Linked DNA regions of Homo sapiens: regions 2 and 3 are each linked to region 1. The links come from fine-mapping of genetic effects on gene expression. A gene starts in region 1. Each other region holds a variant in brackets. All regions are shown on one strand. Distances are between the middles of the regions. Region 1 holds the start of NALCN (sodium leak channel, non-selective). Region 2 overlaps NALCN (sodium leak channel, non-selective). Region 3 overlaps ITGBL1 (integrin subunit beta like 1).

Region 1 (5,232 bases):
TATAGGCATGAGCCACCGTGTGTGGCCTTGGGGACCATTCTTAATATGTTTAAGCTCACTATCATAGTTTCCACAGCAAAACTAGAAAATAAGACATCTCACTGTATATCCACCTGCTTACATATTTGTCTTTCCTGAAGGATTCTTAGGCTCTCAGTTTATCTCTTTTTCTCACTCACCACCCAGCTTCTGGCCCAGTGCTTAGCTTATCTTAGGATATAGAGGTGTAGATGTGAATTTTCATTCACAAACTTGAAATCCACATGTGACTCTGACCTGGGATAAATTTATACAGCTATGGAAATTCTGAAATTATCTGAACATCATCGATAAATGATAAAACAAATGTGTACATTTGTGTATACACATACATGCACACACAAAGCATGCCGGAATGATAAAATCACCTGGAAACCATTTCAAAGAAATGCCATACCCAAGAAGAAGAAAATGCTACTCAAATCTTCAGTTCACTAAATTGCAACTAAATGACACTATTTTGAGTAGACTTTTTTTAAGTACATTTTTTAAGTACATTTCTCCTTTGAATATCTTGCAAGTCCTATCCAAAGTTATAAGTGTACAACCACTATTTTATAAGACATGCTTTCTCCTAGAGTTCTGTAGAGATTTTAGCATAGTCCTTATCAGTGACGGCACATTTATTCTGCAAACAGATTATGTCTTCTATGAACACAGAAGAGGATCCAACTGAACCTTTTCACTTTTTAAGTTTTTCTCCAAAGCTGGATTTTGTCTTCACACTGTCTGGTTTTAGCAGTGGCTAGGTCAAAGTATACTACAGAAGAACGAAAAATCGACTCTAGAAAAGCACGCAGAATGACAGCCAACCAGTTAGGGAGTAAATGTTTCTCGTTGCAGATGTTTGGGAAGCCATGATTTTTATTTAGAACTGTGGAAACCTTATCTTTGAATTTAAAAAGCCAGTCCTGAGATGCATCTGCCTCAGGGGTAACTACCATAGTGAAACCGCTCCTCTCCCAGGCCATATCAAATCACAGTTGTAGTTATGAACATACAAATCACACACATATATATATATATATACATACATATATATTTCAAAATCGCCACCTGTTAATTTTTGATCCCCTATTAGAGGTGTTATCCACCAACTACTAACACGAAGGTCACTGGTCCTCAACCCACATTTCACCACCAGGGCAGTCGGGCCTAGCTGATGACCACACGAACACCAGATTAAGAGTAAAACCTTCTGAGGCCTGAAAGTGAGCGTGTATTCACACATCCTTAATAATACAGTGTCTGAAAAATTGTACCTGAAACTGAAAGATTTATTCTAAGGTATTTCAAGCACTAAGGGTCTGAGTTCAGCATTCTCACACCATCCTGAAAGAGGAACATTAAGTCAGCAAAATGACTGCGATCTGGGCCCCCAGAGGGATCCCAGCCAGGCCATCCTTGCTGGTGTCTTAAAGATTCAGTGACAAAATGGTGTTGCTTGGCAGGACACTGTTTTGCGTTCGGTGTAGCCACCCTAATGACGGCTGCTTAACAAGGCCAATGAATATCATAAGGGACATTTAGCAAGGAGCAATCCACAGGAGCATGGGGGTGGGGCAAGGCCGCGGAGCCCCCGCGGAGACCTGCTGGAGCCAGGCTGCCCACCCCCACCTCCCCACCCGCGCGTTGGCCCAGAGGTTTACCCAGGCAGCGGCCCTGGTGCCGAGGGGGCAGGTGCAGCGCTGTAGTGATGCCCAGTGGCCTCGTCCTCAGCCACCTGCCCCCCAACACCTGCTAGATGCCCAGGCGGGGCAGGCCCGAGGTGTCGCCGGCCCTGGGCTTCCCAAGCCAGCCCAGGGGCATCCCGCGGCAGGCGCCCCCGACACCCACGCGCAGGAATAGGGAGGGCGCATCGCGGCTCCCGCGCCCCGGCCAGGCCGGCAAGGACCCCACCGCCCCGCTCTCGGGTGGAGGCGCCCCTCCCCACCCCTCCCCCGCGCGGGGCCCCCGCCCGCAGCCCCTCTAGCAGCCCCTCTCGCAGCCCCAGCGCCCCTGAGCCGTCCTGGCCCGGACCGGCCAAGGAACTAACGAGCGCGCATCGCGGGCCTCGGGCGCAGGGCACGGAGCCGGCCGCGCCGCAGCCTCCCGGGCACCGGCGGCGGTGACCAACCTGTAACCCCAGCGCTCAGAGCTGTCATGGTGCCCGCGGGCGGCGGCGGCGGCGACAGTGGGCGACCGGCAGGATCAGTGCCAGGCGCGGCGCCCAGGGCGGGCGGGGACGCGGGCCCCTCACCTACGGCGGCTCAGCTCAGGCAGCGCGCTCGGCCCGGCTGGGGCCGCGGCTCACGCTCGCCGTGTCACTCACTGAGCGCCGCCGCCGCCGGGCAGGCTGGGGGAGGGGTGGGAGCCGGAGTTTTCGGGCCTTTAAAAAATTATTATTTTATTTAAATTTTTAAAGTTAGCTTTGCTACAGGGACTGCAGTGATGCCGAAGGGCGGGCACCGCAGAGGAGGCTGCGCCGCAGTTGGTGGGGAGCGCCAGGGTCGGTACTGGCAGTTCCTTCTTGCCGGCTGCCACCCGCAGTCAGTCTCACAGCAACAGCTAGGCTCTCATCTGCGAGCTCCTCTCGGGGGTCTTTCGTACTCAACAGCACGGCGGCGGTGTGCACGGGAGTCCGCCGGGCACACGCGGGGTACACTTAAGTGCACTGCCAGGAGGCCGGGAGCCCAGCGTGCGAGCGTGAGGTCAGACTGTGCACGGTACCGAGGACTAGTTCCATTCCTGAGTATGAAAGGGTGAAACCGTTCACCTCAAGTTTCACCCCGGAGTTATTAAATAATGAATGCATCAGTCACACTTATAGTTTTCTAAATAGGTTGACGTTCGCCTTTAAAATTAAAATATGTTGTCGTGTGGATGAGACAAAGTCTATTCAGAAATTGACAGTCCCCCACCCCATACCCTGTGAGTATACCTGGACAGCAGACTGCATCTGAGGCTTCCTAGGGCTCCCAGCAGAGCAGGTTTAGGGAAATCTGGCCTCCTAAGCACCATGCCCAGGGCGACATCCTCCCACTCATTCCCACTCTCTGAAAGGTTTACTTTGGGTCTGGAATCTTGCCATGTAGTCAGATACGAAAATCCCCAGGGAACTCCTGACCAGTGATTTAGACATCATGCACACAGGCATATAAATAAAGGGAAAGAAACAACTGAATGAAGCTTTCTCTACAAGAGAAATTCTAAACAAAGAGCATTTGTCTATCACAAAATGTTATGTGGCAAGGTATAGAAGTAAAACTACACAAACCTACATTTTAAAAATGTATTTTCTGGTTACAGATATTTAATTAATCTACTTTCTTAAAAAGTCCATTCACAATTTGTTCACATTCATAATCCATATTAGTACGTTTTATTGTTTACAGGGAAATGTTAAAATATTGGTATTTCATGAAATACAGAGTCATGCGAGATAATTTTTCAAATTTCTAAAGACTTCAGAAAAACTGTGTCAAAAGCCAGGTTTTAAACAAATGATGAAATCACTCCTCATAAGAAAAAATTGACAGTAATTTAAACAATGCTAAATCTACAACCAGTTTGCTTAGAAAAAGTATTTACCAACTTGTTTCATCATCTTTATTTGCGGCTTTCAATTGCTTGTTCTAAATACTAGTTTATTTCACAAACTGAAATATATAGCTATATATATATGGTAGCTGAATGATAGTGTGTTATTCCTTGACATTCGTTCGAATTATCTGTTAGTAAATTATATTAAGGAAATATTTAAACATTTATTTATAATGTTTTGAAGTGGTCAAGGCAGTGATTTTTTACTAATCTCAGTGCCACTCCTCACCCAACAGGCATTTCAGACCTTTCTCTGTCCTTGGTTGAACTACCTCTGTTAAGTCTCTATAATTCATGCTCATGAGCCAAACAATCCCAATGATGATGGAGACAGTCTCAGAGAATTCATGGGCTTCAAGGAAGTCATGGAATCCAGCACACTCATCCTATAATGCATAGGGATTCACTGTGTATTGGAGTAGACAATCATTTTAAAAAACAGGTACATCCAAAATATCATAGTACCCCTTCTACCTGCTCAGTATCTCTCTTCTTTTGTTTTCTTTGTTATTTTTAGAGACAAGGCCTATCTCCGTTGCCTAGCCTGGAGTGCATTGATGTGATTATAGCTCACTGCATCCTCAAAGCAAAAGTAGAAAGGATGAACAAATATCTTTTCCAGGTTGAATTGGCCCTGTAACTACATTCATTGCTGGAATCCAGTAAAAGTCAATTGCTGGCCTGTGGGTTCAATATAAACTGAGAATATAATTCAGGTGTGTTTTGTATGACTCAATGTATATTGTTGACAAATTAAGATCAATTACCAACATTTGAAAACCACAAGAATTTTATTTTATCAGGAAAAATAGGAAGATATGGATAACAGGCAGCCTCCACCATGCCCAGCTAATTTTTGTATTTTTAGTAGAGACGGGGTTTTGCCATGTTGGCCAGGCTGGACTCGAACTCCTGACCTCAGGTGATCCACCCACCTTGGCCTCCCAAAGTGCTGGGATTACAGGCGTAAGCCACCATACCTGTAGGAGTCTGAGGCATGACAATCACTTGAACTGGGGAGGCAGAGGTTGTGGTGAGCTGAGATTGTGCCACTGCACTCCAGCTTGGTTGGGTGATAGAGTGAGACTCCGTCTTGAAAAAAAAAAAAGGAAGGAAGATCTGGCCAGGTCAGTTCTGCATTCCCAAGTGGTAGGGGGCCAATAGGGGCATCCTGTGCCTCCCATAGGTGGGCATATACTTCCCATTTGCCTCCATGTCCCCAGCCTGCTTCAATTCCTGGCCCTGGAAGGTGTTTGCATGTAGGAGCCTATACAATTAAATCTGTATTTGACGGTATGAGATTGGGGAAAGGATAATGTCAAACACAGAGAAAGCAGTCAATACAGAAAGTTTTACAATAAAGAGGATGAAGCCAAGCCAATGCACAACCAAGATAGTAGTAGCCTTTGGTTTAAATGAAATTGTGTTCATGGTCCTGCAAGTGCTTTGGAATGGATGTGATATCATTTGTCTGTGTCCCCATCCAAATCTCATCTTGAATTGTAGCTCCCACAATTCCCATGTGTTGTAGGAGGGACCTGGTGGGAGATAATTGAATCATGGGGGCAGTTTCCCCCATACTGTTCTTGTGGTAGTGAATAAGTCTCATGG
Region 2 (5,232 bases), 87 kb before region 1:
TTAAGGGGAGGAAAAATACATTCCACTTCTTGGTGGAAGGGAGGCAATGTCACATGGCAAATGGGTTATGTGTCCAGAGAAGCGACGATTCTTACTCTACCCTTGCAAATAATCCACTAGAGAAAGTAATCAGTGGGTTATTTAAACATTAAAAGTGCTATCAATGATAGCGCTTTTGCATGTTTATTGTATTTTAACAAATGATAGTTTATTGTATTTAAATAAATGATAGTTTATTGTATTTTTATTAGTTTTCTGTAAGATAATTATTTTTCTCCTTCTCTGGCTCATTTTCAAGTAATTTTTCTAGCTAAAACATTGGGGGGGATGATATTTAGTATTTTGATTCTAATTTTTTAAGCAATTTCTTTAATCATTCAGGCTCATGCTTCCATTCTAAAGAATACTCACTGATTAAATTTAACCCAGATTCAGTGAATTTTATGTCTAACCTATTATCCACTTTTCAAAAATTCCTTAAAGTGAATGACAGGTTTAAGGCACATAGCCTGTGTATTTGTGAGAGGCAGCAGAAAGGAGGTGACTTTCAGGGATATACCCATCCCAGGTAATCCTTCTTTTAAAAATTCATGTTTAGAGTTCAAGGAACATCGAGTCAGGGAAAGAGGGCCAGAACTGGATTTGTGAGAAATGGATTCTCACAAATCTAGACAAAATTAGAGATGTGTTATAGCCTCTGAGCCTCCTAGGATAAAGACTGCAAAGGATTCTAGGCAGCTGTGGGAAGATAGAATCAAAAAAGAAGCTTGGGCTGAGTGGTTTTTCCTACCTTTATTCTAGTCTGGGGGTTGGCTAACTTTCCGTAAATGGCCAGATGGTAAACATTTTAGGCTTTATGGGCCTCAGGGTTTCTGTTGGAACTACTGAACTTTTCTGCTGTTGGAGAAAAGCAGCCACAGACCATGTCTAAACAAATGGGCAGGGAGTTGCGATAAAACTTTGTTTACAAAAACTGGCAGTAAGCAGGATTTGACCCACTGGCCATGGTTTGCTGATCCCTGCTCTAGTCAGTTGTAAATACACAGCTACAGCATTGCTTTAAGTCTTTAGAAGTCCTGCCAGGACATAGCGTCTCAGCTTAGAAATAGCTTTGCTGGTAGTATCTCAAAGCAGTGCAAGAAATAGTAAAATAGTTTCAAACATTTTATTCCCAATGAAAGTCTCCATGCAAGAGAGCATACACCAGTGAATACAGCATATACTAGCAAAGTAAAATGTGAGTACTGTATTTTTTTTTCTTTTTTGAGACAGTATCTCGTTCTACAGCCCAGGCTAGAGTGCGGTGGCGTGATCTCGGCTCATTGCAACCTCTGCTTCCCAGGCTTAAGCCATCCTCCCACCTCAGCCTCCCAAGTAGCTGGGACCACAGGCATGCACCACCACACCCAGCAAAGTACTGTATATTTTTAAATTACATTGTATAATCATGAGTGTTTTGCCAGACTAAAAGGAGGCAATCTAAATCTAATGCCATGGAATGAATATAGACATAGGTTTGTCTCCTATTTTTCCCACTTTCTATCTGTGTGACCCTATGACTATTTGCTCTATAATTCCTTAATTTATTTACTTAATTATGTATCTAGTAAAGATAATTATAATCAGTTAAATATTGAGAACTCATTAGGTGTGAGGATGAGAATAGTCTACTTTAGTCTTCCTATGACACTCTGTGATATGTACCATTTTTATCCCTATTTTACAGGGCAGAAGAGGTTAAGTAACTTGTCCAACATTCCCCACCTAGTAAGATGCAGACTATGTCCTGAAACCAATTCCTTCTTTTATCTGGATAGGACCATCCACAGAATACTCACTATTGTAGCTCTACCCCATGACAGGTGAATATAATCATCACTGAGCCCTGTCTCTGTCCCCTAAGAGCTGCTTCTGTTCTCTGCATCTCAACATCTGTACCATTAGAATAAGTTAATAACATGTCACACCTGGGGTTGATGTGAGGACTAGGTGACTTTCCTTACATACAATGTAAGGATCCTAAGTATCTTTACAGGAAAGCCTCTTTCAGTTCAACTTCAATTTGGTGTCAAGATTTACAATCACCGCTAGTTTTTAAATGAGATAATATATCTGTATGCACAAATATAGGTTATTGTTTTACTGGACATAAGATGGTAAGAATTGCCTAGGACAATTTACTTGTTTTATATTTAGGTAATTCTGAATTAGGGTTTTTATTTCATATTTTGCTTATTTGCTGAAGTACTTATATGGAAAGTGAAAGCATTTGAATATTTGCTGCAATTAATATTAAGAAGCTTAAGCATCCCAAATCTTAATCCACTGGAATTGTTCTCAGTACTCAATAATTATTATTGCTGATTTGCAGTCTTGTCTCATTCTCTTGCTCTCTAATATTATTTTGTCTTTACACAAATTGACTGCTGATGTGTTGTCTTCCCAGGCTGCACAGAGGTTGGCATAACTATTCAGCAGCAAAAAAATACTAAAAATAATAACACCGAAATGGAATATTTGTAAAATTAAAAGTTCAAGGAAATACCAACTTTTAAGAACTAATGCTTAATTAA[T/C]AAAATGCATTTTATATATAAGTATAAAAATACATTTAGAATATAAAATCATAGATGCATCATATCAAAGAAAGGAAAATTGCATCATTACATGGGAATCCTAAAAATATAAAAACATAGGCTGGACACAGTGGCTCACACCTGTAATCTCTGCACTTTGGGAGGCTGAGGTGGGCAGATCACCTGAGGTCAGGAGTTCTAAACCAGCCTGGCCGAAATGGTGAAACCCTGTCTCTACTAAAAATATAAAAATTAGCCGGGCGTGGTGGCTCACGCCTGTAGTCCCAGCTACTTGGGAGGCTGAGGCATGAGAATTGCTTGAACCCGGGAGGAGGAGGCTGCAGTGAGCTGAGATCATGCCACTGCACTCCAGCCTGGGTGACAGAGAGAGACTGTTTCAAAAAAAATTATATATAATATATATATACATATATATAATGTTATTAGCAGCATATATATATATGGGCTTTAGGTCAATGTGTTGGACTATGCTTATTTAGACACCTTTTTCCCTTACCCTCCTCACCCTATGCCAAATCAACACAAGGAAATAGATAAAAGAGAGTAAGTTTTGAATGTATAAATTATCTCAAAGCTACATGAGCAAACTATCCAGCGGTCAGAGAGTTTGGGAGAATATAAAATCAGAGCTGTGAGCAGCAGCTGAAGCCAAATGGTTCACAGATGTACTTGGAGTCAATATAAATCTTCAGGGCTTCTGGGTCCCAATAGAGAGAGGAGTTGGGAGGCACCTAATATAAGACAGTAAGTTGGAGCTGAGGTGTCTCTACAAAGCTGGGTGTTACAAAGGATTGTTCTGCATTTTATCTGGACTGGAAGAACCCTGGCCTCCAGCTCAGAAAAAAGCAGAATGTTGCTTGACTTCTGTCCAGATCCATGCGGGGCAAAAGAGTCTCCTCAGAGAAATCAGAATCCAGACCTGGGCCAACTGAAGTGTGTAGTCTAATTTTACAGTGCCCCCATAATGCAAATAGTTCAAGGACCTCTCCTTCCCTGATATGGTTTAGCTGTGTTTCCACCCAAATGTCATCTTGAATTGTAGCTCCCATAATAATCCCCATGTGTCCTGGGAGGGATTCAGTGGGAGGTAATTGAATCATGGGGGCGAGTCTTTCCTGTGCTGTTCTCATGATGGTGAATAAGCCTCACAAGATCTGACGGTTTTATAAAGGGCAGTTTCCCTGCACAGGCTCTCTTGCCTGCCCCCATGTAAGATGTGCCTGCCACCAAGTAAGACATACCTTTACTTCTTCACCTTGTGCCATGATTGTGAGGCCTCCCCAGCCATGTGGAACTGTGAATCTATTAAATCTTTTTCTTTATAAATTACCCAGTCTCAAGTATGTCTTTATTAGCAGCATGAGAACACATTAATATATTCTTTAAGCCACAAAAGTAACACGAGTATCAGTAAGAACGGCTGATATCCATGAAACTGCAGCAAACACAACCCCAGTCACAGTTCAGGCCAGAGTACCCCTGAAAAATGAGCTCATAGCCAGTGGAAATGAGCTCATAGCCAATATTATAAACCACACAAGAAAATGAACTATTGTAAAGGAGAGTTAGAAAATATGGAAGCATTAGAAACAAATTCTAAAATAAGCATGTTTAAAATGTTTGGTGAGATGAAGAAAAGATTAGAAAGAAAACAGCAAGAACAGGAATCTAAGATAAAAGAACAGGCAGGTTTGAAACAGAATTAGATAGAAATATTAGGTATAAAAATTATAGATGTTGGAATTGAAAATTCGATAAATAAATAGCAGTCTAGACACACTGAGAGAAAATTAAGAGTTCAGCAAAGAATTTGAGCTTGAAAATACGTAAACAACTCTTGGAGGGACAGAGAATGATAGAAGATTCCTTGTGCAACTAATCAAGGATCAAGAGTGTAACCCAGGGTCCCTGGGTTTTTGGGTACACACTGTGAAGAACTATCCACTTTTAACTGTTGCACCTTGAGTTTCCGTTGTTTAAAAGTGTTCTAGGAAGAAGCCGAGCCCCTGCAAAACAAAGAACAAACACAAAAAACTGGTCCCAGGCATCCGGGGATGCCTGAGCTGGAGATGAACTTTGGAGACCTCTTCACCTTACCATACTAAATGCCCTGCCCAGGGAAGAGCTTATGTGCCATTTTCTGTATGGGCAACATATGAAGAAGCATGAACAACAGCTGTGCCTGCCTGCACTCCACCTCTGCACACAGTGACTCAGCTAAGCAGCCCCCACAAAGCCCTGTTTCCACCTGTGTCTGGGGAGGCACTGCTTTGGGAACTATCCCCAGTGTTCTACTTACTTGTTGCCAGTAATGAAATCCCTTGGTTAAATCCTCCTTGGTTGTGGTCATTGGACTCCCACCTGCCAAGCAACTGAACCCGCCCATTGTGTGGTAACAAGAGAAGTCAAGAAAATAGAGGGAAGTTAGAAAGCACGATTTAAAGACATGGAGGATAGAATAAAAAATATGATAAAAACAAATATTAATCAGTATTCCAGAAAACAAAGAATAGAGAGAATGGAGAAGAGAGCTGTTTTGAGAAGATAATACCTAAAAACCTTCCAGAATTGAAGAAAGGCATGAGTCTCATATGCAGAGAATGAGTTCACAGTAGATAAAAAATAAAAATCCATGCCT
Region 3 (5,232 bases), 53 kb after region 1:
ACAAAAAATAGGTATTTAGCACAGTTCTGAGTAAACAGTACAGATCGATCTTTCCTGGAGCTCTGCTTTGTATGGTTTTGAATTACTGTCTAGTGTCCTTTTATGTCAACCCGAAGGAAGGACTCCTTTAGAATTTGTTGCAGGGTAGATGGTTTAGTCCATTCAGGCTGCTGTAACAAGATACCCTAGACTGAGTAATTTAGAAACAGGACAAATTTAATGCTCACAGTTCTGGAGGCTGGGAAGTCTAGAATCAAGGTGCCAACAGATTCAGTGTATGGTGAGGGCTCATTTTCAGCTTCCTGGATGGCAACTGTATCCTCACATGTTGGAAGGGGTAAACAGGCTCCCCCAAGCCTCTTTTATAAGGGCACTAATCCCACTAATGAGCCTGGAGTGCTCATGACCTAATCACCTCCTGCAGGCCCACCCACCTTCTTAATACTGTCACGTTGGGGATTAGGTTCCAAAATATGGGTCAATATTTATATCATAGCAGCCGGTCTACTAGCTGACCTTGGCAAAGGGAAACCTCACATCAGTGGGACGGGGATATTGAAGCCTTTGTCCTTTGGGAAATTTAGCTTCCAAACCTGGTCTGAGATTTAAAGGCAAGAGTCACATCTAAGAAGGTGGAAAAGTCTGGTACAGCTAGACTGAGAGTATCAGGGGAATTTACCAGGGCGTTTTTGGGACTCTACGTGGGTAAATTCTCAAGCTATTTTCTAATAACTTCTAAATTGATAAAGATAGAGAGCTGCATGGGGGTTGCAAATCTCATTTTCTTTGGAAAAGGAGTGCTTTGTCTTTCCAAGAATCACATTTCCTGGCAAATAAGAAACTATATTTTGTAATAGAAGTCATTCTCCTGTCTACTCTAAATCATCTTACTTAAGGCTGGGTAGAAGAATGAGGGCTTTATAAAGAGAAAAGAAAAATAAGACTTTTATAAGGGTGCTTACTGATTTGACTTTGTACAACCCCACTCTTAGGTTATACGATAAAATCAGTCCCTGTACCAAGAGCCCTATCGTTGTAATTGTTTGTACATAGTCACTAGTTCAAACACCGAATTATTTAAAGTGAATACCTACCCACTCTAGTTTCCTGTTCTGTTATTTTATCTGGAAACTTCCTAGGGAAAGGTAGGCTAAATTTTTTTTTTTAAAAGAGGTCAATGAGTTTGGGCATTGCTTAAAAACTTCTCTTACGGCAAGGTATTAACTGTAAATTCATGACTTAGTCAATGGGGTAGAGTAAGGAGCCAAAATCAGAAAATGAAAACGTGGTAAATGCATTTCCTAATTGTTCATTACTGCTTTTTCAAAGCTATCATTTTCTGCTGAGCAAAATAGTTAGACAAAACTAGTTATTTTTATAAACAAAGTGACTTGGCCATTTAAGCAGTTTCCTCTCCAAAATACAAAAGACAAGTTATAGACTATTTTCTTTTCTTTCCTGGGCAACACCATTAGTTATATGAGCTCTAAGAGCTGTCTTGACATGGAAATAATTCACTTGCTTCAAGAAAGAAAGTATTTGATTTGTTAACTATGTGCTCGAGAGACTTCTCTCAGTTGCCTGTTTGGATAATTTTAAGCCTTGAAATTAATGCTACATTAGAAATACAAATGAGTAAGAGTAGTATCTACCTATATTTGAGTATAGTATGCTGGAAAATATTTTCATACATATGAATTCATTCACTTTTTATAATAACTTTTAAGAGATAGTCAAAACAATTATCCTCCAACTATTGTGCTAAGTAAGCCTGAGGAGAAATTCCTCCCACCCCAAATCAATAGAAGGGTTTTCTTCAGCATTATAGTAAAATTATCCTAAAAGCACATATGTAGGGATAATTTCTTCATGAATTTTGGAGTACTGAAAGAAAAACATAATTTTCAGAAACTTTATTTACATTTAAAAATATAACTTCTTTTTGGAAAAGTAGATTTTGATTCTTATTTTTGTCTTAGAGAGTGCATGTAAAAGCTCAAATGGTAAGAAAGTACTGGGCAAAAGAACCCGTTATGCATCTCATGTTAAAGAAAGTGAGATAGCCGAAATCACTGGGACAAAATTACTTGTCGTACTGATAATGAGCATTTTCTCAGCTGTAGTTGAAGTTTTTAGAGAGATTGCATTTAACATCAACCATATCCAAATAAGAAGGATCCTCCTGAGTCAGCCTTTGAAGGAACTCCTCCATAACCTAATTTTTCTTGTCTATAAAAGTGAAAGAAAAGGTAGGTAGGAGAGTTGAATCTACATATTTGTTATTTCCTTGGGCATTACCTTACATTATTTTGTGTATTACATATTTTGGCTATTACGAATAAGTCACATCAGAGATTCTCTTTTGTTCTTATAACATTACATTTCATAAAGTGAGCTCCAAAAATTTAAACACATGCAGGTTTTAATATACGTATAGCCTTTTTGAGATCAAAGCTATGCGAGCCAACAATACTGCAAAGAGAGAGAAGAAAGGCATTTACAGAAAGCTGAACAGTTTTGAATGGATCATCATGTAGGTTCACTTTGCATCTTGGAAATGAATGGGTGGACCGTGGGTCATAATATGAAGGCTTATGGGGACATCCTGCCTACCTGGGATTCTGGATATTGTGGTCTTTCAATATTTCAAATATCCCTGTTAATACACCAGTTGTTGCCAGGCGCTGTGGCTCATGCCTGTAGTCCCAGCACTTAGGGAGGCCGAGGCAGGTGGATCACCTGAGGTCACGAGTTCGAGACCAGCCTGGCCAACATGGGTGAAACCCTGTCTCTACTAAAAATACAAAAATTAGCTGGGCATGGTGGTGGGTGCCTGTAATCCCAGCTACTTGGGAGGCTGAGACAGGATAATTGCTTGAAACCGGGAGGTGGAGGTTGCAGTGAGCTGAGATCACACCA[T/C]TGTACTCCAGCCTGGGTGACAAGAGTGAAACTCCATCTTTCCATCTATAAAAAAACAAAAACAAAAAACACCACAAAAACAGATGTTGTATTTTAAGACCTATGAGTGGCAATGCGCTGATCTTTTATTAAAAGATAGTACAGTCTTTACTGAATTTAACAATCTTTTCCTTGGGAAAACTAAGCAGGCAGGTTTGGGTAGGATGAAAATGCAGAGGCAGAATGCTCTGGAAAATGCTTGGGAATTGGAATTAAAAAACAAAGCTGTTTGATCTTTCTCCGCTATTGTTGCTGCCTGTGTGATCTTGCACAAATCACGTAACTTCTCTGAGCCTCAGTTCAGTTAAATTCAAAAGGCACTTATTAAACATCTCCAGAAGGATGTCTAGAGAAGAACAGGGAAATCTTATGATCAGACCTAGCCTCATTAGCTGTGAGATTTCAGCCATCAGATGGCAACAGGAGCTGGATCTCCAGTTACTGTAGATTTGATAAGAGGGTGGAAAGAATTTGTTTTCTTACAGTTGACTGCAAAACGAAATATTCTGTTACCTTAGCTAACCTTGGAAGCTCTGCTTTCCTTGAGGATTTAAGAACTTTCATATCCATAAATAATTATTTAATGCATGTCCAGTGCTTGAAAGATAGTATAATATAGGCATTACTATTTTATTCCTTTTTTAATTAATTTATTTTTTTTTTTTGAGATGGAGTCTCGCTCTGTCACCCAGGCTGGAGTGCAGTGGCGCGATCTCGGCTCACTGCAAACTCCACCTCCTGGGTTCCAGTGATTCTCCTGCCTATGCATTACTATTTTATAAAGTAGACGTGGTGTTTGTCTTTAATTCCCCAACTATATGCACACAGTCTGTTAAAGCACAATGAAATAATGATATTTGTGTGCATCTCAACATTTACCCTCTGGGTGTATAGTTATCAAAAACCATAATAGTCTCTGCTGCCCTTTATATGAAAGTCAACTAGGCAACCTAGCAAGAGAGCCATGACTTTGAAGAACAACTAATGAATGAGGTGTGTGTGGGAGGGGTGGAGGGGTGGTGTTTAGAAGAGAATAGCAATAGTCTGGAAAAAAATTCCTTTTCTAGTAGGACAACATTCTATGGGGTGCCCTTAAAAATCTATTTAATTATAATCATCCTATATGCTTATTCTTAATTTGAAATAAGGTAATGATAATACAGCTAACATTTATTTAGAATTGCTACATCCTTCTTGTGTGGTGTTAAATTCTCCCAATAAACAAATATCATCTTACCATTCTAAAGATAAAAGCATGAGCCTCAAAAAGATTAAATAAAATGTTTAAGATCACATGTTGTCTGAAATAAAAACTGTGCAATCAGTCACTTTGTTATTAAGTTACACCATTTAGTACAGTGACACTGGCTAACAAATGCCCCAAGAAGTATTAAATCTCTTTTCTGAATTTTGAATTATCACATGCATTATTAATCTACCATAATTAAATGTCATTTTCATATGTGAAAGTGTGAGAGGGAGAATGCTGAGGAGATTGAAGGAGAAAGACTATATGGGTTCCAAAACTGGCTCGATTTTGGGAAGTTAGTTGATTTGCTTGTGCCTCTGTTTCCTCTTATCATAGTGTTATTATTGAGAAAACTCCCTTGCAGGTAATAAATCCTCAACAGCAACTTCTTTTTGTTATCAGTATTATCAGGCCATTCCCATGTCACTATGATTAAATTATATACTCCTCAAGGGCAGGAATAGTATCTGATTTTCTGTAAGATTTTCTCTTAGGTCTTTGTTGTTATTGCTTCAAGAATGCTTCATTACAGACCACCACAACATTTAGTGGCTTACAGAAAGGCAACACAAATATATATGTGTGTGTGTGTGTGTATGTATGTGTGTGTGTGTGTGTGTGTGTGTGTGTGTGTGTGTATATATATTTCTCACTCTTGGGTGTGCAAATGAGCTACAACTCAGCTAGGCAAGCCTGGACTTCAGGCTGAAGGCTGGCTGCATTCTGCTGCACGTTATTTTTATGCTACCCAAGCTACGTTTTCGGTATTGTGGATCACAGGAGCACTAGAAAGTGAGACGAAATACTTGAGATCTCTTAAATCTTTGACTCTGAACCAATAACATGCACTTTATATCCAAACATCACTGGGCAAAAGGAGCCACAGGCCCAAGCCAGATATCTCTGCTCTGCATGGTGGGAGTGAGTGAGGAGCTCACAGCAGTAATACCATCAGTAGGATTTAGAAGGGATATTCAAATATTCAGTGAAATTAATTTATTGACATGATCATAAACATCTGACAT

What was found. PIP is the estimated chance that this variant, and not a neighbour inherited with it, causes the effect. A credible set is the group of variants that fine-mapping cannot tell apart.
Region 2: its variant is the best candidate, but not a certain one, in a credible set for the expression of NALCN in lung (TOPMed, PIP 0.51).
Region 3: its variant is the best candidate, but not a certain one, in a credible set for the expression of NALCN in tibial nerve (GTEx, PIP 0.52).

The regions. Positions count from the first base shown.
Region 1 is chr13:101,414,158-101,419,389 of GRCh38, forward strand. NALCN (sodium leak channel, non-selective) reads right to left here and starts at 2,351. Exons shown (of 44, transcript NM_052867.4): 1 at 2,156-2,351. RefSeq lists enhancers at 1,152-1,702, 1,703-2,253.
Region 2 is chr13:101,327,065-101,332,296 of GRCh38, forward strand. The region is part of intron 7 of NALCN (sodium leak channel, non-selective); the gene reads right to left. Among named protein-coding and RNA genes, the nearest start is that of NALCN, 87 kb to the right of the region's middle. The variant T/C (reference allele first, on the strand shown) is at 2,574.
Region 3 is chr13:101,466,725-101,471,956 of GRCh38, forward strand. The region is part of intron 2 of ITGBL1 (integrin subunit beta like 1); the gene reads left to right. Among named protein-coding and RNA genes, the nearest start is that of ITGBL1, 17 kb to the left of the region's middle. The variant T/C (reference allele first, on the strand shown) is at 2,920.